Linked DNA regions of Homo sapiens. The protein of the gene in region 3 interacts with the protein of the main gene of each other region in a biochemical or structural test. Each region holds a gene or a part of one and is shown on either strand. Other genes may lie near its edges.

Region 1 (8,186 bases), on a different chromosome or scaffold from region 3:
TCCTTTTACTACCATTTTTTTTTAACACTGTCATCTGTAGGTCACTCTCCAGCAGTTAGGCACCTTAACTGGAGACCAGAAACCTTCCAGAGAACACAGGGCTGCATCCCGAGCAACCCTCTGAAGAAGGGAATTAGGCTTTAGATTTTGATAGCAATGTTCCAGGAATGAAATATAGATGTTAGCCCAAGACACCATGACAAAATAGCCCAGCCTTTTGAGAGTAATTTGGGAAAAGAAGCTGTCAGAAGTTTCTAACTTACAAACTGGTTTGAAATTTTTGATGCCCAGACAGCAAGTATAAATCATTTTGGAGGCTTACTTTTCATGATACAAAAGCAATTCTGTGTGATTTTTTTTTTTAAGAAGAAAGAAAATGCAAGCTAGTTTTGAGAAAGGAAGGCCAAATTGGGTCGGGGGAGGGTGGGAGTGAGGAAGTTAAAATCACTATAGGGAGAAAAAACTTTTTTCAAGATTTCCAAAGAGATGAAATTTTCTTAATCCTTTTAAGTTTTCATAGTAAACAGTATGGCAGATTGGGTTGGTTGTCCTACCTGGTCTATTTTTAAAAGTCACCTTTTAAAGTGACATTATTAGATACACTTAAATGTTTCCAAGGCACTCTCTACATTACCCTTGTTTTTCTCTTTGGATACTGTCCTGGGACTAAGTGTAGATTTCTGCTTCAAGCACTTCTGGCATTGTGTGTTTTTGTATGCACTCCCCTTCATGCCACTTCAGATGTTTATTTGGATGTGGTTGGGGACGAGAGCAGACACCAAGGAAAGGGAGTTGGAGAGAATGTAAGTCCTGACCTGAAGGTCTTTTGTGATGCATGTATAGGATTGCCCTGACACACACCCTCCTTTCTTGGGATTATACCAGCCATCTTCCTGAGAGTTTTGGAGCCCTCTAGGATATTTTTTCTAGTACCCCACCCCCCACCCCTAAAGAAAGACCTTAATATGTTAAAACAGCATTGCTTGGAGAAGGTGTCATTGAATTCCGGGACGAGCCGGAGCCTTTAAATGGGTGCTTCCACCACTACAGGCTCCTGACACGAGTAACAGGCACTGTTGCTTAGAAGAACACACGAAGTTGCCGAACACAGGGTAAAATTTCCAAGGCGCTGATCGTTGCCCTGGCCAGGGCCTGATGAGAGCCAGTCAGTACATTCTTTTTTTCCTACAGTTCTTGGGTTTCAAACTTCAGTTTCAGGGAATTTCAAGTCAACAACAGGTAGAATGAATAAACTTGGTTACCAGCCTAATAATGTGAATTGCTACAGAATTATTCTTATTATGTAAGAAAACAAAAACTTTATGCAGATACTTTAGCTATAAATTGATGTAAAATACTGATTTTTTTAAAGGAAGGAGAGAACAGTATCTTGTTCAATTATTATGCAATCAATCAGTAAATGTTTTTAAAATGATACTACAGGAGAGCTTAGTAAGGAGAGGGCATGGATGGGCCAGTTTGGCATAGTTGGGAGAAATCAGTCTGGTTTCCATCCCAGTCGGGGAAGAGAGAGGTGAGAGGGAATCAGAACGTACCTAGTTGATTCCTTGGTGACAAGTGCAATGGGGTATGGGTAGAATTTATTTTCAGAGCCAAGAGGACTTGATGGTTATAAATAAAGTTGCCTTTAGCAATGGAATTTACAGATCGATCATGTTGTTCCGAAAGATGTGAATAGGATCCACAATAACAAGTTGATTCAGACTAATGTAGATATTTAGATTAGCAAGTATTGAACATTTGATTTCTTAGACTGAGGTTTTAAATGAATTTCATTATTTCTCCCGGTAATACACAGAGCATCGGGATTAGGAAATTAGCCATTTTGGATTCTGTCTGCCACAAACAGACCTATTCTAAACAGTGCTATTAAATTTTAGACTGTTGTTCAAATATTTTATTTTCTCCTAAACTACTTTTTATGGTGATGAATAATTAAGACCATTTAAAACACGGGAGTACAAGTATTTTTTTGAATTAAATTAACTTGCAAAAACCAAATTTGCAGTGGTTGGGTTGTTTCTAGACAGACTTTGGTATCAATTTAAAACCAAGATAATTTTTATATTCTTTCCAATAGAATTTCATGACAACTCCTGCAGTTTTCTTAACCTACAAAAAAAAAAAAAAAGTGCTGCAATGATGAACAAAGAATTATACAAAACCTACTTTTGTATCTTTATTTTGGAATTTCTTGTTCTATTATAAATATGGAAGTATCCCTATTTCAGAAGACATATTTTGTTAAAAATGAATTGTACATATTTAAATATGTATTTTTGCACAGGTCTTTTTTTCTGATATCCTGTTTTGGTACAATTGAGATCATCTAGTATTTATTTATTAATTAATAAAAGTAAATACCTTTTTATAATTTGAAGTGGTTCACTGCCAAGCCAATAGTTCTAGAACCTGCCTCCTTTACAGTTTTAAGGGATGCCTCTGTTCTGTGAAAAGTCTTTGTCCCTTTTAGTGTCTCGGGAGTGGATTCATACAGATGAAGTGGGCATTGCTTCTTCCTGGTTGCCTGGTTTCCCGATAGACTACATGTAACTAAGTGACACACTGCTTTTCTTTTGTTAGTATTTTATGTGTGGGAGTATGTGACTGCGTGTGTGTGTGCCTGTGCGTGTGTGTGTATACTCAGCACATGTATGTTACTATGTGATGTGGTTTAAAACTAATGGAAAAAACTGAAAGTGCCTGAAACTAGTTTTAAGCTTAGACAGAATCTCTTTAAAAAGACTTGAATGTTCAGTTGAACTTTTGGAGTTTGCTTTTTCCACCTAAATATTGTTTCTAAAATTTTAGGGGCGGAGTTGAAAACCACCAATGCTGGTAATTTTATAAGGTATTTTAAAATTAAGACCTCTTGGTTCATAGTAATTCAATTGGTGATGGATTGCCTGGTGGCACCAAGGGTTACAGATCTTTTTGTCAGCCAGCAACTTACACGATGTGTCCGTTTTGTTATTCACTCATGAAATACAATTTAAAATATTTAAAATATTTTGTATTCCAAAAATATAATACAAAGAAGTACCTCTGAGAACATTGAAAAAAATGTATAATTTGAAAAATGTAACTTATAAGGGCAGCTGTCTTCCTGCAAGAGTTCTGTTGCCAAGGAATTTCTTAATGTCGCTCATTCTGTCCAGGGGGTTTGGGGCGATTGGGCTTTGAAAAAATATTCTTAAAAGTTTGTTTAGCAGAAAATAATCACTTTTACATTTTGTGCAAAACATTTTACATTTTCAGATAATTTAAATGAGCACTACATACTGTCAGTGTGAATGTAGGGCCTTGAAAGCATTTTGCTTTTTTTTTTTTTTTTTTTTTTTTGAGCTTGGTTATAAAAGCAATCTCCTGTGTTAAAAACGTGTGAATAGTTTGATAATTTGTACACATAATCAAGAGCATCTCAGCTGGACTTTGTGTTGGCTGCTGTATAGAACATGAACAAATGTCAAGGGATAGAAAATTACTTTGGATATTTAAAAGAGAAGAAATATATAGTCTATTTGTTTTGTAACAAGTTTCTGTAAATAAAATAATTTATACTATTTATAAGAAAAGGTTGTGCTTTGCTTTATAAGAAATTAGCTTGTGGAACAAACATGTTACTAAACGGGCAATAAAATTAGGACTTCTCAATAAATAAGGTTGGCTGCATGAAATATTGTACGTTTCTGCCTCGTTGTGATACTAAACCCTTTCAGTCTACTCTGACTTTTCATCACTTTTGGCATGGAACACCCTTGTGAAGCCCCTTCAATTTAGCCTTCCTCTTATATAAGCTAAATACTTCTAAGGCCTGGGGATGTTTCCATCTGGGGGCACAAAGCTTTGCTTTGGATAAATTAGTAACTGTGTAAACAGTGAACATTACTGTATTCTGGCCTTGCATGTTTGTGAAAGAAACGAGGGAGTTGATGGATTGAGAAACACATTCTATTTGTACTTAGGTGCAAATTTGATGACATGTAGTTTTGGTTTAAGATAAGCTTTTTATCCAGACCCGGTCTAATCTCTTCCTTTCTTTTACATACCTCCCTTACTGGCAATACAAGTGCATTTTAGTATTATTTGGAACACAGCATAATCATTTACCTCTAGAAATCCAGACATTTTTACTGTTTGCAAATAAACCATTCTGATAAATTATTTTTGTTGCTTAAAATAAGAGGAGGAACCGCTGTGTGTTAGCAAGAATGTCCATACCTGATATGAAAGAGTCATGTTGGCTTCAGTTCCTACTGCCCTGTGGACTTCCCATTCCCTCCTTACTTGAGTCAACCATCCACTCAGTACTTTCCACAAATCTAATAATGAGGTGCTCTCTGTAGGTAAATCCTTTCACTATGGCTTGTCCTCAAACCTCCCAAGAAAAGGTTCAACTGCTCAATCTCTTAACCTTTTTAATTCCATTCCCTTGCAGGTATCCCGGCCCTGCATAACAAGATGATCCCAACTCAAGGAAAGGGGTTTAGCAGTGTTGGATCTTGGCGTATGTGGGATTTAACCAGGCAGAAAGGCAGACAAGAGTAAGATTCTAGGCAGAGAGAGCAAATGCGTCGAGCATGGGTATGAACATGTGAGGGATAGAGAATAATTCTGCAGGAAGTTTGCTGGATGGAAGGGCCTTATAGGGTTAGAAAAGCTGGTGTCAGATTGTCAAGGACTTTGAATGTCATGGGGCTTCTCTTCCAGGAACACATGGGATCAGGCTTAGATTAACCCAAATGTAATTGTCAGAGCCCAGAGATATTTCATGGTCCAGTCCTAGCACTGTGCAGCTGCCAAAAGTCAAAGCCATTCAAATCTGTACTGAAAACTGTGGAAAAGCAAAGGAGCACTTAAGTCTCTTTCCCCATGTCTTGCATTCTCACTCTCTTTTGCTTCAAAGATCTGTCTTTACCTGCCCCTGTCCCCAGTCCTAACAAAAAGCACTCCCCTAAATCAACTCTTAAGTTCCTCTCCCTTCTCACTCCTTTCTTAGTCTCCTCTTTCTGTAAGAAGTTCTTGCTCCTGTTGTTAATGGAAGTTAATTAAAGTAGTATTTCACCTTGTAAGGCTGTAATTCTTGGCACTTGTTATCCTCATTTTCTACATCCAAAGACCATGGACCAGAATATCTCTTAGGAGGTAAGGGAGAGTGAGGCTATCAGCCAAAGAAAAAGTCTCCAGGGGGAAGGGGAGAATCACTTATAATTTAATACTTTGTGGAAAAAACATCTCTGCCACCTATGGCCCTCCAATAACAATGGAAGACAGAATCAACAGGTGAGAACCTTGGGACAAAAATAAGTTACAAAGCTGTTGTAATCCAGGTAAGAGCTATTAAGTTTCCAAACGAAGGCTGACTGTGAGGATAAGTGATACTGATTTCAGAAATCTTTAAAAAGTAGAACCAACAAGCCTTGAGGTCTAACTCTGTTCAACATTAAAGGGAAGAGTGAGTCTAAGAAGACTTCAGGTTTCTAGCTTGGCCAAACCAATTGAGCTTTAAGTGAAATGTGCGATATGGTAACAGAGAAGGAAAAAGACATAACGATAGATTTGAGCTGCTGGTGGGAAATTCTGGTTTAGTGCCCAGCTGGCTGTACAGGCTGGTTGGACTTTAGGAGGGAGGTTTGAGCTGGAAAATAAAGATGGAGAGTTGTCTTTCAGTTTTAGATCATCAGTGAGGTCATAAGGGTAGATGGAGTTTACCTGGGAAAATTAAGTAGCTATTCGATTTGGCTTATTATTATGTTAAAATAATACTTCTCTAGTGAAGTACTTAATATGCCAGATACTGTGCCAAGCATTTTATATACATCCTCTCTTTTACTAAGCCCTCATAGGGCAGGTATTTTGATTCCAATCATACTGATTGGAACTCCTAAGAAGGTATCTTGCTTAAGGTCCCACAACGAATAGGTGGCAGATCCAGGGTAATTCAGGTCTGTCAGAACAGTGATTCTTAATTTTTTCCCTCCTCAGACTCCAGGAGTCACATGAAGTTATGCATCCTGTCTGACCGAGGCACAGGCACACCACATTTTTATATTCCGCTTCCAGGATATCACAAACCTGAAGCCCATCCTCCATGGCCCAGAGAGAAAACCCAGGACAAAACCTTGGAGAAGACTATTTTCATGAAGACAAATGGAGAAGGAGCAGTAGAGTAAAAAGAGAGGTAAGGGAAGGCATTGAGATGGTTTACAGGGTTAGATGTTTTGAGTCAATCCCATTATAATTACCAATGCTATCTACCTATTTAGTTAACGTTTTATTGCCCTGCTGTTTTCTCCAGGATAATTGGAACAGCATGTATTGGTTGGGTGGAAAAGATAGAACTTGAGCAGGGAGATTGCCAAAGAGTGAAGATGTGGCTGAGTGATTGATGATGGTCTGAACTGGGTATTCAGGGAAGAGAACTAGAAGCCAACCATGTAGAATCTATGCAGGTGCTCTTAAGACATTGGTTTGACTGGAATTATCTTCTTGTTAGGTCTTAGGAATCTCCTTCCAGGTAACTTTTTCTATGATTAGACAATTGATTTGTTCAGGGTCACAGAGCAAAGTCCACATTTAATTCCACATGGCCAATAAAAGTGAGGGGCTACAAGGTGAGATCCAGGGGCCAGAGTTATCAAAGTGATACAGCACTTTTAGGAATAGGACAGGGAATGGAGGAATTGGAATTCCAGTATTACTTTCAAAAGCAGAACTGGCCAGAGGAATTGGAATTCCAGTATTATTTTCAAAAGCAGAACTGGCCAGAGGTGCTTGTGATTCCTGGGTGGAAACCATGGCAGTGGACAGAAGCAGCATGGAGGAAAAGAGCACTGGAATTCAGGCTGAGGAACTGTGAAGCCAAGGGTGTTGTATAGGTTGTCCATTTCAAATTAGGGTTGCTTGGTTCTGGGATGATTTGCATGGAAGAGGGGAGAGTGACTTGGAGATGTGTGATTGAGGACAGTGAGCACAGTGAGTTGATGGTGTTGCTGGGTTATAAGCAGCTTCAAAGAGAAGGCATTTTGAATGAAGGTGGAAACATAATGGCCAGGAGAACAAGCAAAGGACTAGGAAACAGTGAACTTCATCTTGGCCTCAAGTTCCTGAGGTGCATATGAATAAACAGTCTCTAACCCAGAGGGTTTCAAGAAAAGCAGAGTCCTCAAAATCCAAAGGTAGAGTTTCCCCACATTGATATTATACTAATTACACGTATAACAGTACTTTGGAAAAGCACAGGTCTCTGGTCACCTCTAAAAGGCAAGGTTGGTAAGGAGGTCAGGGTGTCACCTGTTGGTAGTCTTAACTAAATGGTCTCTTCAAGGGATCTAAGGATGGAAAGGGGATATATAATGGTTGGATTAAAGGCTCATCATTGATTAGCAAATTGTCCCTTTTGTTTCTTAAACCCAATTTGTACAGGGAAAGTTATGCCACTGTAAGATATTTTTAAATGGGGAAAAAAAAAAAAAAAAAAAAAAGGTTATACCCTTTGACCATGTATGTCAAGGTTAAAATGGCCTGGATCAGATTGCTACAAATTCCTGATAGCCTTTGTATTCCTTCAGAAACACAAGCATAATGCAAATCTGTGGCTCTACAGCTTTGAAACCAAAACTAGTGATTATCAGAGCTTTTCATGTTATCCAGATGGGGATTTTACCCCACTCCCCCATTGCCATTGTGGAGGCACAGGTTTGTTACCAGCAACTACAAGTTTATGTAGCATTGGGAAGGTCAGGGATTATCATAGTTCCCTCCACGCTTTTTCCCCCATAATCATGGGGGCAGATATTTCAGCTGTCAGCTGTTCATCTTAAAAACATTAGGTTAACAGCAGCACCAAGGACTAATTCAGAATATGAAATTACAGAAATGATTTGCTAATGATTTAGTAGCCTTTTATCAGTTAATGTTTGGTCAGGTTATAAAAGACCAAATGTGTTCAGTCACAAAATCCTAAGTGTATTGAGTATTGCATGCTTAGTGATCAAGTTGTAGGCATCCTTCTAGCCATCTGGGGCAGGTAAAAGTTGGGTGCTTAACAAAAGTGGTTTTTACACTGTTTCTGTCCTAAGAGACACTGTTTTTTAATAGCTTAAAAATTGACCTAAAGCTGTTATTTCTAATACAGGAAATAGATTACCATAATTTGACATAGC
Region 2 (11,486 bases), on a different chromosome or scaffold from region 3:
ATATGACAGAAAACCTAAGAGAATGGCAGCTGAAGCAAGAGGTATATTTGTTTCTTTCTAAGAGAAAGAGAAATCTGGAGGAGGAAGTCCAGGGCTGGTAATGGTATTCCATAGTGTCAAGGACTCAGGCTCCTTCAGTCTTTTTGCTCTGCATAACTTAAGGAGCTCTAGACAGCTCTGCCCAAGTTGAGAAAATCTAGCAGGATTTCAATCCACAGGAGGAAGGGAAAGGATGGTGAAGCATCTGTTTTTGAAGATCTTTGTCAATGTTGTGCACACCACTTACATCTCTTTGGCCAGAACTAAGTAGCATAGTGAGACCTAGATACATACAAGAAGAGAAACAGAACCATTTTTTTTTTCCTAGAGGCAGGTCTCACTCTGTTGCCCTGGCTGAAGTGCAGTTGTGTGATCAGAGCTCACTTCACCCTTGAACTCCTGGGCTCAAGTCATCCTCCTGCCTCAGCTTCTTGAGTAGCTGCAACTGTAGGTGCGCTTTACGATGCTTAGCTAATTTTAAAATTTTTTGTAGAGAGTAATCCTGCTATGTTGCCCAGGCTGGGCTCCAACACCCGGCCTTAAGCAATCCTCCTGCCTTGGCTTCCCAAAGCACTGGGATTATAGGCATGAACCACCACACCCAGCTAAGAATTATTTCAAGTGTGATAAAAATGGACAGTTCTATAATTTTAAAAGAGGAAGAAACATATTAGGGACAATTAGCTCTATCTTAATATTGTGGTATGATTTTTTTCTCTCATTGTTTTAAATATGTAAAAGTTGTCTCGCCTAGATTTTAGATTAAGGCAGAGGCCATCATTCCACAAATAGGTTATTGAATAATTACTACGTGATAGTGTTTGCCAGATTTTGCAAGTACATACATTGGAACGTGAGTATATACTTGTTCAACAAATGACATAAGACATTTATATCACATTTAACATTAGTATTGTAATTAATGGAAATAGCAGAATTATTGGTTGGTAAGAAATAAGGTTAAAATGCTTTATTTCTATACGCATATTACTCAGGGTCCTGGCCGGAAGCATATAGCACATTCAAAGGATACTCTGAAGAGAGTTTAATGAAGAGACTATTTACAGAGGTGTGGACAGGTTTTAAAGGAAGGAGTGATGAAGCAATCAATCATTACCACCCTGGGCCTGAAGACACAAAGAGAAGAAGCAGTTTCTGGAACTTGGCAAGACCTGTGGCCATGGGATGAGGGTGTCGGACAGGAGCCAGGGACCTCAGGTAGAGGAACGAAGCTAGAGCCACAGCCAGGCAGCAGGGAATAGAATAAATATCCTGACCTCTCTCTTTTTCCTTTCTCTGATCATTTGCCAAAGCCTCCAAATTGGCTGAAACCAAATAGGAACCAGAGGGCAAAGAAGCCTGGGTGACGTGACTTCCACAGAAGTCAGCCTCGCAGAGCATGGAAAGGCAGAGAATGGACTTTGAAGGACAGAGCATAACAAGGATAATATGAAAAAGCAAAGCATTTCACAGAGTTGGAACGATTCAAAAAATTTTAAACAAAAAGAGAAAGGGAAATGATCCAAACAGAGCGGGCACAAAGAAAGACAGAGGAAGGGAATGATTACAAAGTAAAACAGTGGGGGAGGGGCACAATGTCTGATCTATTTATGTAAGTAGGATAAAGAGAGAGAGAAAAGAAATAGAGGCCTGAGGTCTGAAGAGAATGAGAAGGGTGTGACCAGGGATCTTAAAGTTGTGGATATAATTGGACACAGGGTATTTATCACCATCTTTCTCATGTAAGTTTAATACAATGGTAGAACATCTAAAACCTGTTACTGATTGCAAACATTTTAAATGCATGTACACCAAGGATGTTCAATCCTTGCCTCTGTTCAGAGGCAACGACTGTAACTGAGGATCTGTGGTTTACAGAACACCAGCACTGTAGGTCAAAGAAACAGCCATACTCTGTAACAGAATCAATCAGCTGCTAAAAGAAGTCAAGATGACAGAAAAAAGAAATACGTGGATACAAAAGAGAAAAAACAGCAGTAGAAACCAGCTATCAGACCACTGATATCATGGTAAATAATTAAAATTCACTTAAATCAAAAATATGTGTGTTGCTTCCTCTCAAGTTACCTACATATAATTAAGTGTAGAAAAAATTAAATGTTATTCATATTCATAAGTAATATTAGTAATAGAAACTACAATCTAACTTCTATGGAGGCAGCCTTTGAAAGAAATCCTTTTTAATTACTGTGACTTCATGGAAAACACTAGTTTTACTTTTTGGATATTCACCGACATCCTGCAAACATCTTTCTCCATATATTTATATCTATCTCTGTATTACACACGTTCCTGAAAAATCACCTCGTAAATAAGAAACTACACGTGTTAACATTTCATTGACTTACATTAAAAATAGGAGCCTCATTCCCCAGAGGGGTAAGAACCATTCTGTGGTAAACTATGTAACAAAAATCACATGGAAGTATGGAGAAAACATTTGTCCCTGTGATATCTCCTGGGAGGCTGTATTCGAAGGGCTGGCATGGGTCCTGTGGCCAACTGTGGGTTCTGCATCACCCTGTAGTCATGTTTCCTTCCTGACTCAATGACTGCAGAATTTGGTGAGACTGCAACAGTGAAATGACCATTGCCCTCCTTTGTTCCACGGTGAACTGCAAATCCAGAATTACTGTAGGTCAGGAGCCATGGTCAGAGACAAGAATTGAGTAGCGGCTTTATGGGACCTCTACATTCTGTACTTTGAGGGATAACATGTATCACATTCTTTTTCCTTCAAAAACTCTAAGATTAAAATTAGGTATTGAATTCAAGAGTTGCATTTACATGCTATCCTTCCATGAAATTAACGAACTTTAAATTTTGATGAAGACTAGAGAATTATACATTGCACTTCTCAATGTGTTTTGGAAGAGGTATGTGGGAATGATATGCTTCATGTGGAACACCGTGAAATCTCTACATTTTAAACTTAAGATAATTTTATGTCAAATTTTATCCTAATTTATACAGGAATCATATATGAAAAGCAAATAGGTGCAAAGGGTTTATGAAAAATTTATAGAAAAAACTCAGTATTGGAACTATTCTATCCATTTACATTTTTCCCTGTAAATTTGGAATAGTATAGAAATTCATTTTTAGAATATCTTCCCTTCAGCATATATAATCCCAGTGCTCAGTAGAAGCAGTGTGTTAACATTTCATTGACATATTAAAAATAAGCATATATATTGAATGTATGCTGTATGACAGCACTACAATTACTAAAACCAAGAATGCAGGATACATGTTAAAGTCATATATTAGTATCCCCTACCGTTTGATTTGAATAAACCTAAATTTTAATAATCTTCTTTTATAAATTGATTCTAAAGATTTTTCCCCTATTCTTTAGCTGTATTTAAGAGATAAGAAGCAACCGTCACACATGCATCATGTTTAAAGCAGTAATTTATTCTGAGATTTACTTTTGTCTGTTTTCTTTCCAGTCCAGGTATCAATATTTTCAAGAATATTAAAGTATAATAATCAAACATTCAATTCATAACATATATGCTTATCAGAAGCTTTTACAAAATGGAAATTTTATGTTAGAAGATTTGGGCTACCAGTAATATTCACTGTGCATATTTTAAAAAAAAAGGTGAACAGAGTTCATTGTTTAGGGAAAATGATTATGGAGAAACTAAAATCAAGAGCAATTTTAATGTGGATATTAATGACAGTGATCACTTTCATATCCATGACTTTATCTGTTCCTAAGGACTAAAGGGATGAAGGCAGATTATGTACCTTACTGTCAAGAACAGGGTCAGAAAAGGTCAACAATATTAATTTAAGAAATGTTTATTAAGCATCTACTATTGGCTACGTACTCCACTAGGTGTTGAGGACATAGAAATAAGAAAAAAAAGTTACCTGAAAAGGTACTTGTCCACAGTTTGGCCCAAACTAACTAAACCAGAAACCACTAAAGTAAGGAAGAAAATGACTTCTGTTTGTCTCTTCACTTCATCTCTCTATGAGGTGAGGATGAACACTGAAGGAAGCTTAGCAGGGAGGTACAGGCCAGAAAGAGAACATGAGAAAATGCTATTTGTAATACCTCCTAAGTTTAAGAGTAGGTAAAATGTGTGATAGAGCTGGAAAGTTTTTTTTTCCTTTCTGGTCAGAAATCAGGGTAGCTGTAAAAATGTTGGTGGGGTGGGGTCAATTCCATAGTCTATGACCTGATTCGGTAGGCGACTGAAAAACATTGTACAACTCTTAAAAAAAGGGAGGAAGAACTCACACTTAACCAAGCAAAGCAAGGACACCGTGTTGACATACACAAGTTTCGGTTAACATGGTATCAAGGAAAGCGAGGACTGCCTGTACTTAAAATGATCATTAAGACTAATGATTCTAGTTTTGGCATTGAGGATGAATGCAGATATATAGACATAATGTATAGCAAAGAATATTTACAGTCACATTTCATGGACCAATAAATAACGCATTTACTTCTCAAAATGCCCAAGAAAATGTGGGAGAGAAAATGTTCATTTATATTCAAGATTAAACTTTCTAACTTTAAATCATCAGACTTCAGCTGTAAATTTATTTCAGTTGAAAGGTTTGAAGACATTATTAATGAATATTCTAAAATTCCGGAAGGTGTTTAAAAGATAATTTTAACCTAATAAAAAAATCCTGCCATAGAAGTGACAAAAATTATAAGCATAAATTTATTGAGCACCTACTATGTGTCATTGTGCTAGGTGATGTACTACGTTATTTCCAATACTCCGGTCACGTTTCAGTTTTCTCAATTTCTCTATCAATAACTGCTACATTGTTAATTTATAACTATATTACTTGAAATACAGCTCAGCTTATTTATTCCATAAAGTTGGTCCCAAAGACGTTTCCTTATTCGAAGGAGGTGGGAAGCAGGAAGGAAACCTAAATCTAAATTCTACTTAATACTGAAGACGACTTTCTTGATATTTGTGGTTATCTGTATGGTCTTTTCAGAAATCCCAAAACTTGTACCAAGTCAAGGATAAAATAAGATAAAATCAGCAATCTATCAGGTTCAGAGATCACATCTGTCAGCCGATGCTTCTTGCCTTAAGGTCCTGCACGGCGATGACCGCTCATTTAGGAAGGAATTCATGGCCTGTGGATACCTTAGCTCTGAGTCCTGCCACCTAGGATCCCACGGTTCTACGCGAGGAAGAGGGCGGGGAGCGCGGACCGGGTGTGGGAGGCCGAGGTGACAGCAGGTGAGGGCCGGGTGCGGATGGGGAAGTGAGACAAGCACCGTGTGGGTATTACTCATTCCGCTCTACTAAGGAGGCTGCTGGCAAGCGGAACTTCTAGCCTCTCTTTCAATCCAGCTGAAGTTCAATCTCATTGAAGTCACTTCCCATCCCGGTTCGCTTGGGGGGAAACCAGGCGTCCCTGGAAGGGAAGGGAAGGGAGTCCGGGCTGCGCGGGTCAGGTAGCCTCTCTCCGGTCGCCGCGTGTCCTCGCCGTCCCCAAACCTGCCCTTCCCCTCATCAAGGGAACTCCCCGGGGAGTCCAGACCGCGATCCCTTTCCTTGGCCCCGGGGTGCGGGGGGCGGACACGCGAGGCGTGGGACTGATGGTAGCCCTGCCTCCAGGAAGCAGGCAGGCGGGGACCTCTGGGCGCTCGGAGGGGCAGCTCCGAGGGCACAGGGTACAGGGAGAATCAGCCAGATCCCTCCCTGCCCCGGGCAGCCGCGGCGGGTGTGGCCAGCGCGGAGGCAGGACGCCGCCGAGCCTCCAACTTTACCTTTCCAACTCCGACAGCCCGTCGCCTTTCTGACCGCGTCCCTACGGTTTCCCGGCATCCGCCTCCCTCTCCCCACCACACCTGAGGAAAACTTTTCCCTCGCCCCTCAATTCAAATTCAGCAGTGCCCACGGTTGCCGCAAACCGCCCGGTCCCTAGCAACAAGGTTCCGGCCGTAGAGCGAGAGCCTCTAGGTGTAAGGAAGGTGATGTCGTAAAGCCGGGAGTGTCGTAAACCAGGTGCGGTGGGGAGGGGGGAGGGGTGGAGGCGGAGGGGTGGGGGGGAAGGGGGAGGGAGGGGGAGGAGGTGACTCGAGCATTTAGACACAAGCGAGAGGATCATGGCGGATGGCCCCAGGTGTAAGCGCAGAAAGCAGGCGAACCCGCGGCGCAATAACGGTGAGTGGCGGAGGGGACCGGGGAGCGGCGGAGTCAGGGGGAGCTGGGCAGCCGGGGCGCCCCCGGGGGTGAGGGGGGCGAGCCGGGCTGGGGGCAGCCGGGGCAGGGACGGCAAAGTGGAGTGGGAAAGTAGAAAGTAGTGCTCTCTGCCCCCCTCCGCTGCCGCCGCTGCCGGAGCCGCGCCGCGGCCGCTCGCTCTCCCTGAACCGTTATGTCTCTTACCTGGTCTCTCTCCGCCTAGCGGCTCCCGCCGCCCCTGCCGCCTCCCTGGACCGTTAGCCGGCGCCGACGCCGCCGCATCCCCGGCGCAGGGCGGGCGGCCGGGACGCACTGGCCACTTTTCTGGTCCCGGGTGGAGCGGCTGTTGCTTCTTTCCGCACTTTTCCCCACTCTTGTGCCCTTCGGCGCCTCCCTCTCCCCCTCCTCCTGGCCCCCTCAGCGCGATTCTCCCTCAGCGCCCAGGCCCCCGGGAGCCGCGGAACAAACTTGTGCCCGGCGCTGACCGTGCAAAGTGGCTTCCGCGCGCCGCGGCCCCGGCCGGCGCCGTCGCTGTCGCTCGGGCCCCGCGACTCGGGCCGGGCTGTGGGCGCGCGGCAGGCGGGCTGCGGCGGCGGCGGGACGGGGCGGCCGCGGGTTGCGTGGGGTTTGTGCGCGCGTGTGCGCGGGCGCCGGCTGTGCGCGCCGCGGGCGGACAGGGTTCGGCCGGCGGCGGTAAAGTTGGGACCCGCGGGCCGGGCGCGCTCGCGTAACGGGGATTAGAGGCGCGGGGGCGCGGGTCCCTAAGCGCCCCTCCTCCCTGGCGCCTCCCGCTGCCCGGCCCAGAGCCCCGGCCTGGGGACTCCGCGGCGAGCCCCGCGAGTGGGGTCCACGTTTGGCGGGGCGCGGCGGGGCGGCGCGGGGAACAAGGCAGGAAAGGTACCCACTTAACGCCGCCGGGAGCCGCGCGGATGGGGGCGAGCTGGGCGGCGGGTGTGTTTGCGGAGTTGTTACCTGGGCTTAGAGACCGGGAAGCACCACAGACAGATCCCCCTCCCGGGGCAGACGAGGTCTCTGCGCCGGGATGGGCCGGTGTGCGTGCGCCTCGCGCTTTTCTCTTTCGGTTTTTGGGGAAGTTGTTACCTGGGCCGGACGCACGGAGCGCTGAAGCCGGATAATGGGGCTTGGATGGCGCTCTGGGTCTCGGGTGGAAGGAGGGTGGGGGAGGGGGCGGACGGACCGACGGACGCGCGGGGCTGCTACTTGCACCGCAGCTGCAGTGTTTATTGATTTGTGCTGCTGTGCCAAGGGAAACACACACCCCTCTGCCTGGCGTGAGAGTTAAAAAAAAAGAGAGACAGCCCGAGGGATCGAGACCTGAACATGTGGTGGTGGTTGCACAGTCGCCTTTTCCAGTTTGGAGAGACGTTGTAAGTTGATTGTATTTCTGGTTATCTCGGGGCGATGCTATGCTTTCTCTCCCTCTCGTGCAGCAGCGAAATGTCTGCTGATTGTTATTGTCTGGACAGTTCCTGTGGCGAGAGGGGCGAGACTTGTCCGCCCGGGGGCGGCGGGAGCGCAGGGAGAGCAGCCCCCGCCTGCGCCGCCCCGGTACCTGTTTGTATAATAATGGGCGGCAACGGCCCTGCCGCCGGCCGCAGCCCAGGCTATATAAGGAATTACACGTACATTTCGGACCGAGGGGCTCGCTTTGGTTCCTGCGTTATTTTTAAAACGACTTTTAAGAGAGGGGCAATAAATGCGTCTATAATGGGACCGCTGCAGCGTCGAGAAAACGAGGAAATACGTGTTTAGGAGAAAACTCTCTCGTGCTCCCCCAGCCCCACCCCCCGCGCCTGGGCTCCCTTTCTCCCTCCCCTCTGGGATGCGAAACGCGAGGTTTTGTAACCTTTCCTGGCAATTTTAGATTTTGTGTGGGATTTCCTGTCTAGAAGCAGATACGAAGATTTTTAAGCTGTTTCAAGATGTTTCCTTCCAATCCATAATTATATTTTTAATATATTCGAGCCATCATTAAAATCACTGCTTTCGTGATTTTAATTATTCAAATAAACACTTGCATTTTAAAGACGTCTGTTGATTATAAACGAAAGGTATTTTGGTATTCTCATTGTGGAGAGATGACTTGTTATAGCAAGGAGTGGAGCATAGGCTATTGCAATTTTAATTTCCTGTTTTAGCGTCAAATAGTGTGTGTTCCATATTGAGCTGTTGCCGCTGTTGCTGATGTGGCTTTATGAAAGGTAAGTTGGTTCGGAAAGAGCTGTTCGCTTTTTACCTTATTTAAAATGTTGATCGCCAGAGAAAGGGGCTTTTCTTGTTGCTGACGACATGTGTGTGACATGTGAGTCTGAACCACCCAGCGTCTGTGCAGCTGCTGTAAACATGTTTACCTGAACAGGAAAGAATGGATTTTTCTCCTTGAGATCCTGTGATATGAATATTACACTCGTAAGGCATATCAACAGATGACTTAAGGGGGGAAAAGCGATCCTGAAAGATACTTGAAATCAACAGGAAAGAGAGGTTCTTGATCGCTGCAGCAAATGGCAACTTGTGCAGGTAGAAAAAAAGATGGTGTTTAGTTTTCTCCTGCATGTATGTCAGCCCCCTCCTGTCTGCTGCTTTCATTCTCAAGGGAGGGATTTATTTACCACGCTTGCTGTCAGTGTTTTTCCTTTGTGTTTAATATTAGAAAAACAGATTTGCGTCTGTTTAGCACAAAACGTCTTGTCTGCAGTATGCATTACTCTCAGAAAACAAAAGGTGTTTAAGATAGCACTGTACTACTACAGGTATCTTCCATTTTCATCACTTTTGGCTCTGTCCTTGTATTTCTTTTTGTTCTCAAATGCATTTCATCCATTGCTGGTGATTATAGCCATGCTATTTGATTTAGCCTTATATTTTGCAAATTAAAAATGAAGTTATATTCCATTGTGTTGTGAAACCTCAGTATATGTGCTGGTTAATATTTCTTAGCAGTGCAGTCATATTTAAGTTGCAGATGTTTATTGGAGAAAATTGCCTGGCAAAACGTTAACTCTCAAATCTTTTTAATGAAGAAATATGTGATATATACAGTGGAAGATTGTCGTAGAGATAGTTTATGTTGTTATATATGTAAATAATGTTTTATTCATTTTGAAATAAGATACGTGGATTTTGCTGCTAAGCCTTCTGTAAAATATTTTAATTTCCTTTCTGGAATATGTCTGAAGGTAGGATATTAAAAGGAGTATCAGGTAATGTAACTGACAGGGGTAAACCAATTGAGTAAGGTTTGGCCAAAGCATCAAACCTTGTGTGGTAACTTAATGATGTTAGTCATCCGTAAAGGAGTGACATTAGAATTGCTTGAATTAGTTTTTACCATTTATAATTTCATGCTTTGTTGCATTTTAAAAAATCTGTCTTTTTCTTTTTCTGCTTTCTTCTATGTGGTTTTCTTCTTGTTCTACCTTTTTTTTTTTTGAGAGAGAGATGTACTCTACTAATGACCACATGCTGATTAATTCTCTTTAGATGGAATAGAAGGTACATATCCTTCTGTCATCAGCACCATTTCCCCTTGCTGTCATTGGAAACCACCAGTAGAGGATGCTAACAAAAATGATTATTGGTGTGGTAGCATCATAAGTCTCTCTATCGACTGTGCTGATTGGGACCTTCAGTATAATTCTGAGTCTTATTGTTACTTAAAACTAGCCTTGGTTAAATTAGGCATAAGCATTTTCTAGTTTGCCGAAACTAGAAAGAAGCAGGACTGTTTTAACTTGAATAATTTTATAAATTTGAGTTATTTAAGTCTCTAATTGAGATTGCTGTTAATTCATTCTTGTTTTAGAGCAGTTGTATTACTCCTTATTTTAAAAAGATTTTGTTTTATGTTCTTAGGTTTGGAGAAGAATATGTAATAATTGACCCATATTTATGTTGCATATTTAGAATACTTTTTAATCACCCCTTTTTAAAATTCATAGTAAGATCCCTTAAAATATATATTTTAGATGTTAAAATACATCTAAAATGGTCAAAGTTTAAGAGTAGCAAGGAAAATTACAATTGATTGATAATACTGTGTAATTATTTTTATATAACTTATGTAGACTTAGACTATGGATGGGTTGGCAGAGAGCTACTAACGGAGGTGGTAACTAGCAGTCACTTAGATGTTAGTGATTTTTAGATTTTATCTTTTCCTTCCCCTTCAGGTCTTTTCCTACTGGTAGCCCTCCCCCACCTTTTTAGTTAAGAATCAGTGAGTGCATACGTTTTAAATTTGTCAGTTGTAATTAAGGAATATAAGTTTGCTTTGAGATCTTATATGCAGTAAAACTCTGTAGTTCGTACGTTGCTGTATGCTTGTATTTAAATAATTCCTTTCAAGAAACTATATAAATTGCATATAAATAATTGCATGAGACTGTATTTAGTTATGTCTTTTCATTTTGTGTTCTTATAGGTATATTAATATAACTGTAAATTTTAAGCCTCTCATTAGGTAGAACATTAGAAGTATTTATTTCCTTAATTATTTTTAGTGGTGTTTTTATAAATGCATCAATATCAGTACCGTAATGGAATAGCCATACTGTTTATCTTGAACTAAGTAGGTATTGAATTGCCAGGTAAGCCTGTGTTAATTTCTTATTTTAGGATGTCATGGTTCTTCGTGTGTGTGTGTGTGTGTGTGTGTGTGTGTGTAAATAGTTTTTCATTTCCTGACAGGTATTTCTTGAATTTAGTATTCTAATTCCTGAGGGCTCAGTAGTGAATAGGTGTGATTCACTTAAATGTTTATGAACTCAGAAACTTTGCCACAAAGTCACGAGATACATTGTAGCATGGAGCAAAACTTAAAGTATCTTATAAATTGAAAATATTAATCGTTTATGAAGATGACCCTGATATAAAAAGCATGTGAAATATTTGTTTAATACTGTTTTCTTCCTTTCTCTAGTCTCTAGTATGTTTGAAATGGCATACCTCCTATGTAGTAGCTTTTGAAGCATGTGCTGAGAAACTTCTGTTAAATTGAGAATGATATTTTTAAAATAAGAGCATAATGATTTCTCATAGTTGTGTTTTTCTTTTGCTTTATCCTCTTGTGGATTTACCTGTATAAATCACTTTTAAGCATGTGGTTAGAGCCAGATGTAAACACAGATGCAGTATCATGTGGAATTATATTGTTAGCTACTCTTAACTACCTGTATTGAATTGCAGCAGAGGAGGAGAAAAATCATGCAGATGTTGGAAGAAGAT
Region 3 (11,090 bases):
GAGGTGGAGGGCGGCAGGGGCTGGGGCCGGGGCGAGCCTGTGGGTGCGGAGCCACAGCCCGGGTTTGCGTTGCGGCTGAGGAGTAGACTTGGAAGCGCGCCGTGGGCTGTGGGAGGCCTTAACCAGGAGTGAGTCCCCTCGGGGAGCCCAGTCTTGCGTCCCGCAGTTAGGCTTGGTAAGGGTTTGGAAATCAAAACGTAACGTGATTCTTCTATGTGAATAAAGTTTATTTTTACAGTTTCACGCGCTTTTGTAGATTACAATCCGAGATTGGGAGTTGTGAGGGCAGTTTCCACCTTGAGTGGCATTTTTTTATTTATGGGAATACCAACAGGCTCGCTGAGATTGTAGGGTATGTTAAGCAGTAATTCAAAAAAAAAATTATTTTTTTGAGACGAAGTCTCGCTTTGTACCCCAGGCTGGAGTGCAGTGGCGCGATTTCGGCTCACTACAATCTCCGCCTCCCGGGTTCAGCCGATTCTCCTGCCTCAGCCTCCTGAGTAGCTGGGATTACAGGCTCCTGCTACCACGCCCGGCTAATTTTTGTATTTTTAGTAGAGACGGGGTTTCACCATGTTGGCCAGGCTGGTCTGGAACTCCTGATCTCAGGTGATCCACCCGCCTCTGCCTCCCAAAGTGTTGGGATTACAGGCATGAGCCACCGTGCCCGGCCTCAAAATTTTTTTTATCTGTAATGGTATCAGGTAGCGTTATGTCTGGATGAACTAAAATCAGACATAAAACGTTTCAGGATCGGAGTTAGAGTCTTGCTAGTAGAATTGTGTGTCTTTAAGAAAAGATGGCCTGGCTTGGCGCGGTGGCTGACGCCTGTAATCCCAGCACGTGGGGAGGCCGAGGGGGGCAGATCACGAGGTCAGGAGTTCGAGACCAGCCTGGCCAACATGGTGAAACCTCATCTCTACTAAAAATACGAAAAGTAGCCGGGTGTGATGGCGGGCGCCTGTAATCCCAGCTACTCCAGAGGTTGAGGCAGGAGAATCACTTCAACCCGGGAGGCGGAGGTTGCAGTGAGCAGTGATCGCGCCACTGTACTCCAGACTGGGTGACAGAGCAAGACCCCCTCCGGAAAAAAAAAAAAAAGGGTGGCCTGGTTGAAGCCAGTCTTCTACAGGGAATGTGCTGTTGCTACTCTGGGTCAGTAGTGTCCGGATTGGGACGTGACGCGCCCAAGATTTGTTACTACTTTGGATGAAGTGGGGACCGCCCCACTCTTCCTCTCCCTCCTTTTCTTTTTCCGTTCCCTCCCTCCCTCTCCCTTTCTTCCCCCCTCTGGTATTTTTTAACCAAATAGAAGGAGTCAAGTTTAAACCATCATTAACTAACTTTGCCTAATTTCCTAAAGTTAAGAATTACTTTTTTTTTTTGCGCTACTTATGGCTCTGATTAATCTTTTAATTTCAGATGTCAGTTGCTTAGTTTCAAAACTGTTGAGCCACATGTATGTTATTCACCAATTAGAAGTTGAACTGTAGTCGGGTAGTGAAAAATATTTCTTTCAAAATTTAGGTGGGGGCTGCTGCAGTGCCAGTTGGCAGTGTGCCAGCAAGGAGCCCTTAAGCCCTCCATGCTTTTTCCTCTGACTGGGGGGACTTATTTACCTGTATCACTTCATGTGCGGTGTCCTGCATTTCTAGCACTCTCTAGTGGCCCAGTTAAGGAAGAGTTGGTTTGGGAAATAGTTTAACAAACCTGATGATTAACAGTTGGACAATCTGCATAGGATTTCCATCAGATCTGTAAGCTTAGGACATTTTGTTTTTTAAATTTTATTTTATTAAAAATTATTTTTTGTAGAGACAGAGTCTTGCTCTGTTACCCAGGATGGAGTGCAATGGTCTGGTCAGTGATCACTGCAGCCTCAGATTCCTGGACTCCAGCCTCTCCTGAGTAGCTGGGACTACGGGCGTGTGTCACCACGACCGGCTAATATTTGTAGAGACAGTGTCTCACTATATTGCACAGGCTGGTCTTGAACTCCTGGACTCAAGCCATCCTCCTGTCTCCCAGAGTGCTGGGATTACAGGCCAGAGCCACTGAGCCCAGCCATATTTTTGGTTTTAATGATATGAACTTGACTGTAAAAGTACTTTAAGCTGATGATTGTGCCACTGTACTCCAGCCTGGACAACAAAACCTATCTCAAAACAAACTTCAACTTGAATTATAATCTTTGTAAACAAACAAAGGTACTTTTTGAGATGGACATCTCAGGTACAGTTTAAAGAAATGAATCCCTGAATGAATAGGAATTACGAGTTTTGTTATCTAAGGACAGATGGATTATGCATTTTGTACCCAAACTTTGATTCTTCTTTTAACAGGCAGAACATGACAAAAACATGACCAGGCTTGATAAATTTCTGTCCAAAAGAAGCTTGAATTGCAGTAAAACTCTGTTTTTTGAGATGGGGTTTTCACTCTTTTTGCCCAGGCTGGAGGGCAATGGCGTGATCTCGGCTCACCACAGCCTCCCCCTCCAGGGTTTAAGTGATTCTCCCAAGTAGCTGGGATTACAGGCATGCGCCACCATGCCTGGCTAATTTTGTATTTTTCGTAGAGATGGGGTTTCTTCATGTTGGTCAGACTGGTCTCGAACTCCCAACCTCAGGTGATCCGCCCATCTTGGCCTCCCAAAGTGCTGGGATTACAGGCATGAGCCACCGCGCCTGGCCCGAATTGCCATAAAACTCTTGTATTGCAGACTATAAAAATATTTCTGCCGGGCATGGTGGCTCACGCCTGTAATCCCAGCACGTTGGGAGGCCGAGGCGGGCGGATCACGAGGTCAGGAGATCGAGACCATCCTGGCTAACACGGTGAAACCATGTCTTTACTAAAAATACACAAAATTAGCTGGGCATGGTGGCACGCGCCTGTAATCCCAGCTACTCGTGAGGCTGGGGCAGGAGAATCGCTTGAACCAGGGAGGCGGAGGTTGCAGTGAGCCGAGATCGCACCACTGCACTCCAGCCTGGGCGACAGAGCGAGACCGTCTCAAAAAAAAAGAAAAAAACTATTTCCATGATTTAGGACTGGCACGACCACAGTGGCGTCTCCTTTGTGTTTTTGGTGTGTGTTAAATATAACAAATTTCTTACCATTTCAGGGTTTGTCTGTAAAGATAGGAACTGGCAGGAAGTGATTATGATTTAACATTCTACATTATATTTTGAATATAGACACTTTGGAGAACAGGTAATGTTTTTAAAACCATTTCTCTCTTTGAATCTAAAATTTTATGGCACTGTGTCCTCAAAACACTTTTTTAAATTTTTTATTTTTTATGTATTTTTTTTTTTTTTGAGACAGGGTCTGTCTCTCACTCAGGCTGGAGTGCAGTGGTATGATCATGGCTCACTGCAGCCTCGAGTTCCTGGGGTCCAGTGATCCTCCTGCCTCAGCCTCCCAAGTAGCTGGGACTACAGGCATGCGCCACCGCACCTGGCTAATTTTTGTATTTTTGGTAGCCATGAGTTTTGCCATGTTGCCCAGGCTGGTCTTGAACTTCTGAGCTAAGTGATCCTCTCTCCTTGGCCTCCCAAAGTGCTGGCATTACAGGCATGAGCCACCTCTCCCAGCCATCCAACAATGCCTCAGTCTGTCTTTACTGGCTCAGCCAGGTGCTGGGATGGTGGTGAGCACATTGTAGAGAGCTCTCATTACTTGTTTTTATTTTCATAGTCTAGCTCATTTTCCTGATACGTGCTATTGTATTTATTTATTTATTAAAAAAAAATAAAAGACTGAGTCTCCCTATGTTGCCCAGGCTGGTCTTGAACTCCTGGCCTTAGGAGATTCACTTCGGCCTCCCACAGTGCTGGGATGATATGTGCTATTTTAAAAGTATACTTTAAAACTTTGTTTCTTTGAGGAATTTACTTTTTATTTTATAGTGAACTGGATCTTTCAAATCATCACAACAAAACATTACACCATTCATACTAAGTGGGGTCTAAGTAAAAGATCTAAAATGTAAACATTTTTCTGTTTAAGGTTTTAATTTTGAGGTCATTGTAGATTGACATACTGGTGTAAGAAAATAGAGTAATCCTGTGTATCTTTCCCCAGTCCTCTAAGGGTAACTTCTTGCAGAAATGGAGTACAATTACCACCAGAATATTGACATTGATACAGTCTATCTTCAATATAATCCACCATCTCATTCAGATTTCCCCGCTTTTACTTCTACTCATTTGTGTTTGTGTATTTAGTTCATTAACTACACTGCATACTTTATTCAGAACTCATTGGTTTTTATGTAATGTCCTTATTCTGTCTCAGAATCCCACATTACTTTGAGTCTTCACGTCCTCTTGGGCTCTTCTAGACAGTGACAGTTTCTCAGGCTGTCCTGTTTGGTGACCTTGAGAGTTTTGAGGAGTCCCGGTCATGTAGTTTGTAGAATGTCCCTCAGTTTTGGTTTTCTGATGTTTTTCTCATGATTCAGCTGTGGTTATGAGTTTTGGGAAGGAAGACCAGGGAGATGAAGTGCCCTTCTCATTCCCGTAAATTAAGGATGATGCTGTCAAGATGTCTTGGGTTGCTGGGCTTGACTGAATGGCCGAAGTCATGTTTGCCAGGTTTCTCCACTGTGGAGTGACTCTTTCCCTCCTTTATGTACTGTTTATAATAGAAGGGAGTCACTCTGCATAGGTACTCTACCGGGGTGGGGAGTTCTGTTCCTCCTCCTTGAGGATGGAGTAGCTACTTAAATTATTTGGAACGTTTATGTATGGAAGATTTGCTGATCCTCACTCGTGTGTTTATTCATTTGTGTATATCAACATGGACTTGTGGATATTGAATGTATGCTTTGGGTTATCATCCAGTGCTGTGTGGTTTGTTGTGTTGCTCCCATCATCTGGCTGTATCCACTGGGAGCTCTTTCAGCTGGCTCCGGTGTCCCTTTCACATAGCCACATTATTTTTTGTTCGTTGTTTTTGAGCACTTCCTTACTTTCTGGAACTACACGATGTTCTGGGATCATCTTATGTGTTTTCTGCCCCAGCCTTAGACTCCAGCATTTTCCAAGGATCCCTAGTTTCTTTTTTGGGAGAATGGAATTAGATCTCAAGATCTGGGCACTGGTGTGTTCATCATTACTGGGATATCCTGGCTTCTTGGCCCCCTCAAGGGACAGAGCTGGGAAACAGGTGTGTATATACAAATGCGTGCATATACACGTCTGTAATTTGATATATATTCATCAGCATCCCTATTAAGCTCTACATGAGTTCATGTTTATATCTCCAACTCTAATCCATTTCTATAGGGATTATTCTAGCCTTCCCCTCCAGTTTATCTGTAACTTCTCTGTCCAGCAGAGAAAATGCTGGCTCCCACTGTCGACAATCTACTTACTTACCTGTTGTGCTTTGGTATACATGAAGAGAGGTTTCAGAATTGTCCTGTACTCCCTTGGGAAATGACTTGACCCCCCCCCCCCTTACAGTACAGTGCTCAGTTACAGTTCCTTTTGCTTTTAGTCTTACACTCCCTCCTCATTTCCACATTACTTAGGTACTTCCCTCCCCACCCCTCTTGGCGGAGTTGTGTCCTATATGTGTAATACAATTGGTTTCTTCTGCCTCAGCCTGCATTCCATAGGGCCTCATCAGTTATTTTTAAAATCGCATATATTAAGGTTTGCTCTTTGTGCTTTAAAGCTCAGTGGATTTTGACAGAGGCATCCACAACTACAGTACTGTACAGAACAGTTGCACTGCCCCAAGAAATCCCTGTGCTTCACCTTCTAACTCTCCACAACCACTGGTCTCGTCTCCATCTCGGAGGTTTTTCCCTTTCCAGAATGTCATATCATTGGGTTCATACAGTCTGTAGCCTTTTCATACTGGCTTCTTTTGTCTAGCAATATCCATTGTATCCATTGAGTGGATTGAAAGTTCATTCCTTTTTTTTTTTTTTTTTTTTTTTTTGAGACGGAGTCTTGCTCTGTCGCCCAGGCTGGAGTGCAGTGGTGCGATCTCGGCTCACTGCAAGCTCCGCCTCCTGGGTTCACGCCATTCTCTTGCCTCAGCCTCCCGAGTAACTGGGACTACAGGCGCCTGCCACCACGCCCAGCTAATTTTTTTGTATTTTTAGTAGAGACTGGGTTTCACTGTGTTAGCCAGGATGGTCTCGATCTCCTGACCTTGTGATCTGTCTGCCTCAGCCTCCCGAAGTGCTGGGATTACAGGCGTGAGCCACCGCGCCCAGCCGAAAGTTCATTCCTTTTTCTTTTAATGGTATTTATCATGTGGCTATACTGGTAAGTCGTTTAAGTTTCTTAATCTGTAGGTTCTCTCTTCATTCCTTTCTTACAGTTTTTTGCTTCTACTTTATCTGTTGAAAAACTTGGGCCTTGTGACTTGTTGACTTCCCTATAGTCTGGATTTTGCTGTTTGCATACTCAACAGTGGAAGTTCAAAGTGTTGTGGTTTGTTTTTTTTTTGTCCTATTTCCTACAAATTGGTAGCAGGGTCTCCTATTAAGGCTTTTCCTGTATTTAGCACACAGACTTGATCACCTTGGTATTAAGCGGATGGAAGCTTAGGTAGGAAGTAAACTCAGTTTTCAAGGATTAAAATGACCCGCCTAATGGATATGTGAGTCTTTTTCTTGCCTCTTGTTTTATGTTGGCCAGTACCTGTAGCAGAGGGTGCTGAAGAGTAGAAATTGAGATAGAATTGAGTGTGAGTTTTATTATTATATGTTAGCAGCTCTGGTAAGAAACTCAGAGAATTAAGTGAGAATGGTAGATTAAAATGAGGCTTTAGGATAATGTGATTGCTCCCCATACATGTGTAATTGACAGTTGTGTGAGGTGAGCTCAATTTAAAGGAAGACTAGCCTAAGCTGGTCAGTACCAGGAGGATTTTGCCCCAGTTTGCTTCCGTCCAAGTGTGTGTCCCTCAGCACAGCATCTCTTGGGCTTCCTCATTTCCTGTTTATGATAATAGAGTACTCACCCCCATCCTTGAGGGATACATTCCAAGACCTCCGGTAGTTGTCTGAAACCACAGATAATACTGAACCCCATTTGTATTACGTGCAAACTTTTTTCCTTCATAATTTCATGGATAGATTTGTTCTTACTGTAGATCTTAGCAACCTTGTTATTTGATATTGTTTTCTTATTAAGAATTTTTACCTTTTCACGTAAAAGAAGCCCTTTATGGCTTTTCTTTGGCATATCCAAATTGCAGCATCAGTACTCTTGAGCTTTGGGGCCATATTAAGCCAAATAAAAGTGGCTTGTGTTCACTTTTATCCGTGATCACATCCGCAACAGTTGATGTGATCAGCAAGACAGCTACCAAGTGACTTAACGGGCAGGTGGCCTAGATGGCACGGAGAAGCTGGACAAAGGGATGGTCATGGGACAGAGCGGGATGTCACTCAGTTTCATCATGTTTCTCAGAACGGCGGGCAGTTTAAAGCTTATGAATTGTTTATTTCTGGCATTTCCATGTTACTATTTTCAGACTGAGGTTGACTGTGGGTAACTGAAACCACAGCAAGCGGAACTGTAGGTAAGGGAGGACTGCTGTGATATTTTATATTTCATACGTAATTTCCTTCTGGTTTTGGTAGTTGGGATACACTTTTTAGGTAGGCCTGGCAAGTAAGTCTCCTGACCTGTCCAAGGACATCACCGGCAACTGCTGGGTCCCAGCCTTGAAATGAGGTCAGTCTGAGGTCTTGCCTTTGCTGAATGAAATTACCCCTTCTGTAAATTGAAAGGTCTGGAGTCGCTGTACCCTTAGATTGATTTTGGCTCCGAGATTGAGGGGCCTGAGTCTGGAAGCTGAGGTTTTTGAGGTTGGGGAACTTAATTTGAGAAGATTATCTAATTTTGGCAAAGTCTTTAGCTTTTTAGTGCCGTATTTTTTTTTTCATATAAAGGATAGAATATTTAGGCCGGGCACGGTGGCTCATGCCTGTAATCCCAGCACTTTGGGAGGCTGAGGTGGGTGGATCACTTGAGGTCAGTAGTTCAAGACCATCCTGGCCAACATGGTGAAACCTCATCTGTACTAAAATACAAAAAGTTAGCCGAGCATGGTGGCACGCGCCCGTAGTCCCAGATACTCGGGAGGCTGAGGCAGGGGAATCACTTGAACCCGGGAGGCGGAGGTTGCAGTTAGCGGAGATTACGCCACTGCACTCCAGCCTGGTGACAGAGCAAGACTCCTTCTCAAAAAAAAAAAAAATTATACCTGTCCCTTCACTTATGTCAGTGTTTGAGTCCTTGAAAAAGTCACTGAAGAGAATGCACAAGAATTAAACTTACCTTCCTAAGATGCTCAGGTTTTAGACCAGTAGGAAGTCATGGGTAATGTGTGAAAAGTGCACTAGCTCTTAAGGTGGTGTGTCATGTTTGCACACTTTTAAAAGCTGGACTCAAAATTCAGTGTACTGTTGAGTCATCCCATAGGGTAAGTCTGGTTGACTACAAGGGCTCTGCCCCTCTTGCTCCTCCGCATCCTTCTTGGGGTGGGAGGTAGTGTGAGTGGGGAGATAAGAGGACAGGATATTCAGAGGAATATTCTTAATATCGGGACCAAATTAATGAATTTGGCAGGGTGTTTCTGTACTGCATAAGATCAACAACAATTAAATAATTGATCCTCTTCTAATTCCTGTCACATACAAATCCTAGTTATGTTTCAGGATTTGCTTGCAGTCTACTGAATCTACTTGAATTAATTTATAGGAGAAAAGGATTTAATTCAGAAATCATTGCAAGGGCTATGGAGTAGTAGATTCTAGGTTGAATTTCTAGGAAAACCCGCCAGCCTGGGGAATCCTGCCTCTGCAGGAGCCACCACACCAGAAAGTGGTGTGCTGGGCTGCTTAAACAGTGCCACCCCTCCACGGTCCATGTCAGCCTGTGGATGCCCCCACTGGGCCTCTCTCCTTAGCTTACTCACCAACCGCATCGTCTGCAAATGTGTCTCAAGATATGTTTGGAACATGAGCTGCAAGGGTGCCTGGGGAATGCATTTTCAACTTTTTTTTTTTTTTTTTTTTTTTTTTTTTTTGAGACAGGGTCTGGTTCTGTTGCTCAGGCTAGAGGGCAGTGGTGCGATCTTGGCTCACTGCAGCCTTGACCTCCTGGGCTCAAACCATCCTGAGTAACTGGGACTACAGGTGTGTGCCACCATGCCCAGCTAATTTTTGCATTTTTTGTAGAGATGAGGTTTCACCATTTGGCCCAGGCTGGTCTTGAACTCCTGGCCTCAAGCTGTCCTCCCACCTCGGCCTCCCAAAGTGCTGCATTCCTGGCGTGAGCCAACACGCCTGGCTGTGTTTTCTACTTTACAGTGCTGTGAAAGGAGATAGAATAAAAATGAATGTGAACCCCATGTGAGTGACCGGGCCTGCTGTAACAAACCACCACAAACCGATTAACTTAGAACAACAGAAATTTCATCTCAAATTATGAGACTGGACGTCCAAAATAAAGTGTTTGCAGGGTAGCCACTCCAGAGGCTATTCCTGGCCTCCTCCAGACACTGGAAGACATGTGCTACCTTACTCCTGTGTCTGCCTCTGTTACATTTAAATCTGATACAGTATTATCAATGGACGTGCTGTTCCACAGTGTAGATTGGGGAAAAATAATAATGCAGTGTTGGCATTGTTTAACAACAGGATACATTCTGAGAAATGCATTGTTAGGCGATTTTGTCTTTGTGTGAACATCATGGAGTGACTTAACACAAAGCTAGATGGTACAGCCTGCTGCACACCCAGGCTGTGTGAGATGGAGCCTGTTGCTCCTAGGCAGCAAACCTGTACAGCACGTACCGTACTGAACACTGTAGGCAGTTGAAAGACGGTTGTAAGCATTTGTGTTTCTATAGCTAAACATAGAGAAGGTTACAGTAAAAATATGATACTATAATCTTCTGGGACCGCCATTGTACATGCAGCCTGTCATTCACTGAAACATTGCTATGTGGTGTGTGACTATACCAGACATAAGATTGAGGTTTTATCAGTATGTCAGAGACAGCTGTTTTCTGTATTTAGCGCCAGTTGTCTTGTTGGTTGGCTGCTTGAATAATGTTGGAGAAGCTGTCTCTTAGCTGTGTTGGCTCCATAAGGCCTGTAAAATGTGTCTTCCCTGGTGATTGGTAAACCCGTGCAGGGGAGCATCCTAGGTTGTGTAGTAGAGATAGACCATAATGGAGTGTGTAGCACAGTCCTAGGTTGTGTAGTAGAGATAGACTATAATGGAGTGTGTAGCACAGTCCTAGGTTGTGTAGTAGAGAGAGACTATAATGGAGTGTGTAGCACAGTCCTAGGTTGTGTAGTAGAGAGAGACTATAATGGAGTGTGTAGCACAGTCCTAGGTTGTGTAGTAGAGAGAGACTATAATGGAGTGTGTAGCACAGTCCTAGGTTGTGTAGTAGAGATAGACTATAATGGAGTGTGTAGCATAGTCCTAGGTTGTGTAGTAGAGAGAGACTATAATGGAGTGTGTAGCACAGTCCTAGGTTGTGTAGTAGAGATAGACTATAATGGAGTGTGTAGCACAGCAGGAGCTTGTTGTGTTTAGTTGTTTTGTTCAGTGTTAGGTTTCTGAGATTCATCCACGCTGCTGAGTATATCATAAGTTCCTTTTCATTGCTGTGTACTTTACTCAATTAACTGTAGTATAGTTTATTCTTTTTACAAGTCATGAACATTTGTATTTTCAGCTCTGCGGTGTTGCAAGTAATAATGCTACAAAAGTCCTTGTACGTGTCTTTGGTTGCGTATAAACCTATGAATTGAAGCGTTAGGCTGTAGGGTACATGTGTTCAATTTAATAGTTGTCTTCTATCCATTTATTTGGAAAATAAGAAACCTACAACAAATAGCAAGAATGCTAAAATGAATATTGTATACATTTATATGGATTCATCAATTGTTAGCTTCTTGCTAACTGGTTTTATGTCTGTACCTTTTTCTGAATCATCTGAGGGCTGACTGTAGACATCATGGTAGTTTACCTCCTAAGAACTGGGACAGTCTCCTACATAAGCGCAATACAGTTATCACACTCAGTTTAATTTTT

The links.
Region 1: the proteins of USP22 (region 3) and ATXN7 form a complex in vitro, tested with the Homo sapiens proteins (one study listed by BioGRID).
Region 2: the proteins of USP22 (region 3) and ZEB1 form a complex in vitro, tested with the Homo sapiens proteins (one study listed by BioGRID).

What each region holds. Positions count from the first base shown.
Region 1 is NC_000003.12:63,999,867-64,008,052, forward strand, and holds the end of ATXN7 (ataxin-7), read left to right. Parts: 3' UTR 1-3,596; downstream 3,597-8,186. UniProt on the Homo sapiens protein: Acts as a component of the SAGA (aka STAGA) transcription coactivator-HAT complex. Mediates the interaction of SAGA complex with the CRX and is involved in CRX-dependent gene activation.
Region 2 is NC_000010.11:31,313,072-31,324,557, forward strand, and holds the start of ZEB1 (zinc finger E-box-binding homeobox 1), read left to right. Parts: upstream 1-6,144; 5' UTR 6,145-6,163; coding exon 6,164-6,221; intron 6,222-6,443; exon of another isoform or gene 6,444-7,136; intron 7,137-7,211; exon of another isoform or gene 7,212-7,376; intron 7,377-7,482; exon of another isoform or gene 7,483-7,627; intron 7,628-8,129; exon of another isoform or gene 8,130-8,454; coding exon of another isoform or gene 8,455-8,461; intron 8,462-8,588; exon of another isoform or gene 8,589-8,764; coding exon of another isoform or gene 8,765-8,780; intron 8,781-11,486. UniProt on the Homo sapiens protein: Acts as a transcriptional repressor. Inhibits interleukin-2 (IL-2) gene expression. Enhances or represses the promoter activity of the ATP1A1 gene depending on the quantity of cDNA and on the cell type.
Region 3 is NC_000017.11:21,030,899-21,041,988, reverse strand, and holds part of USP22 (ubiquitin carboxyl-terminal hydrolase 22), read left to right. Parts: intron 1-11,090. UniProt on the Homo sapiens protein: Deubiquitinase that plays a role in several cellular processes including transcriptional regulation, cell cycle progression or innate immunity.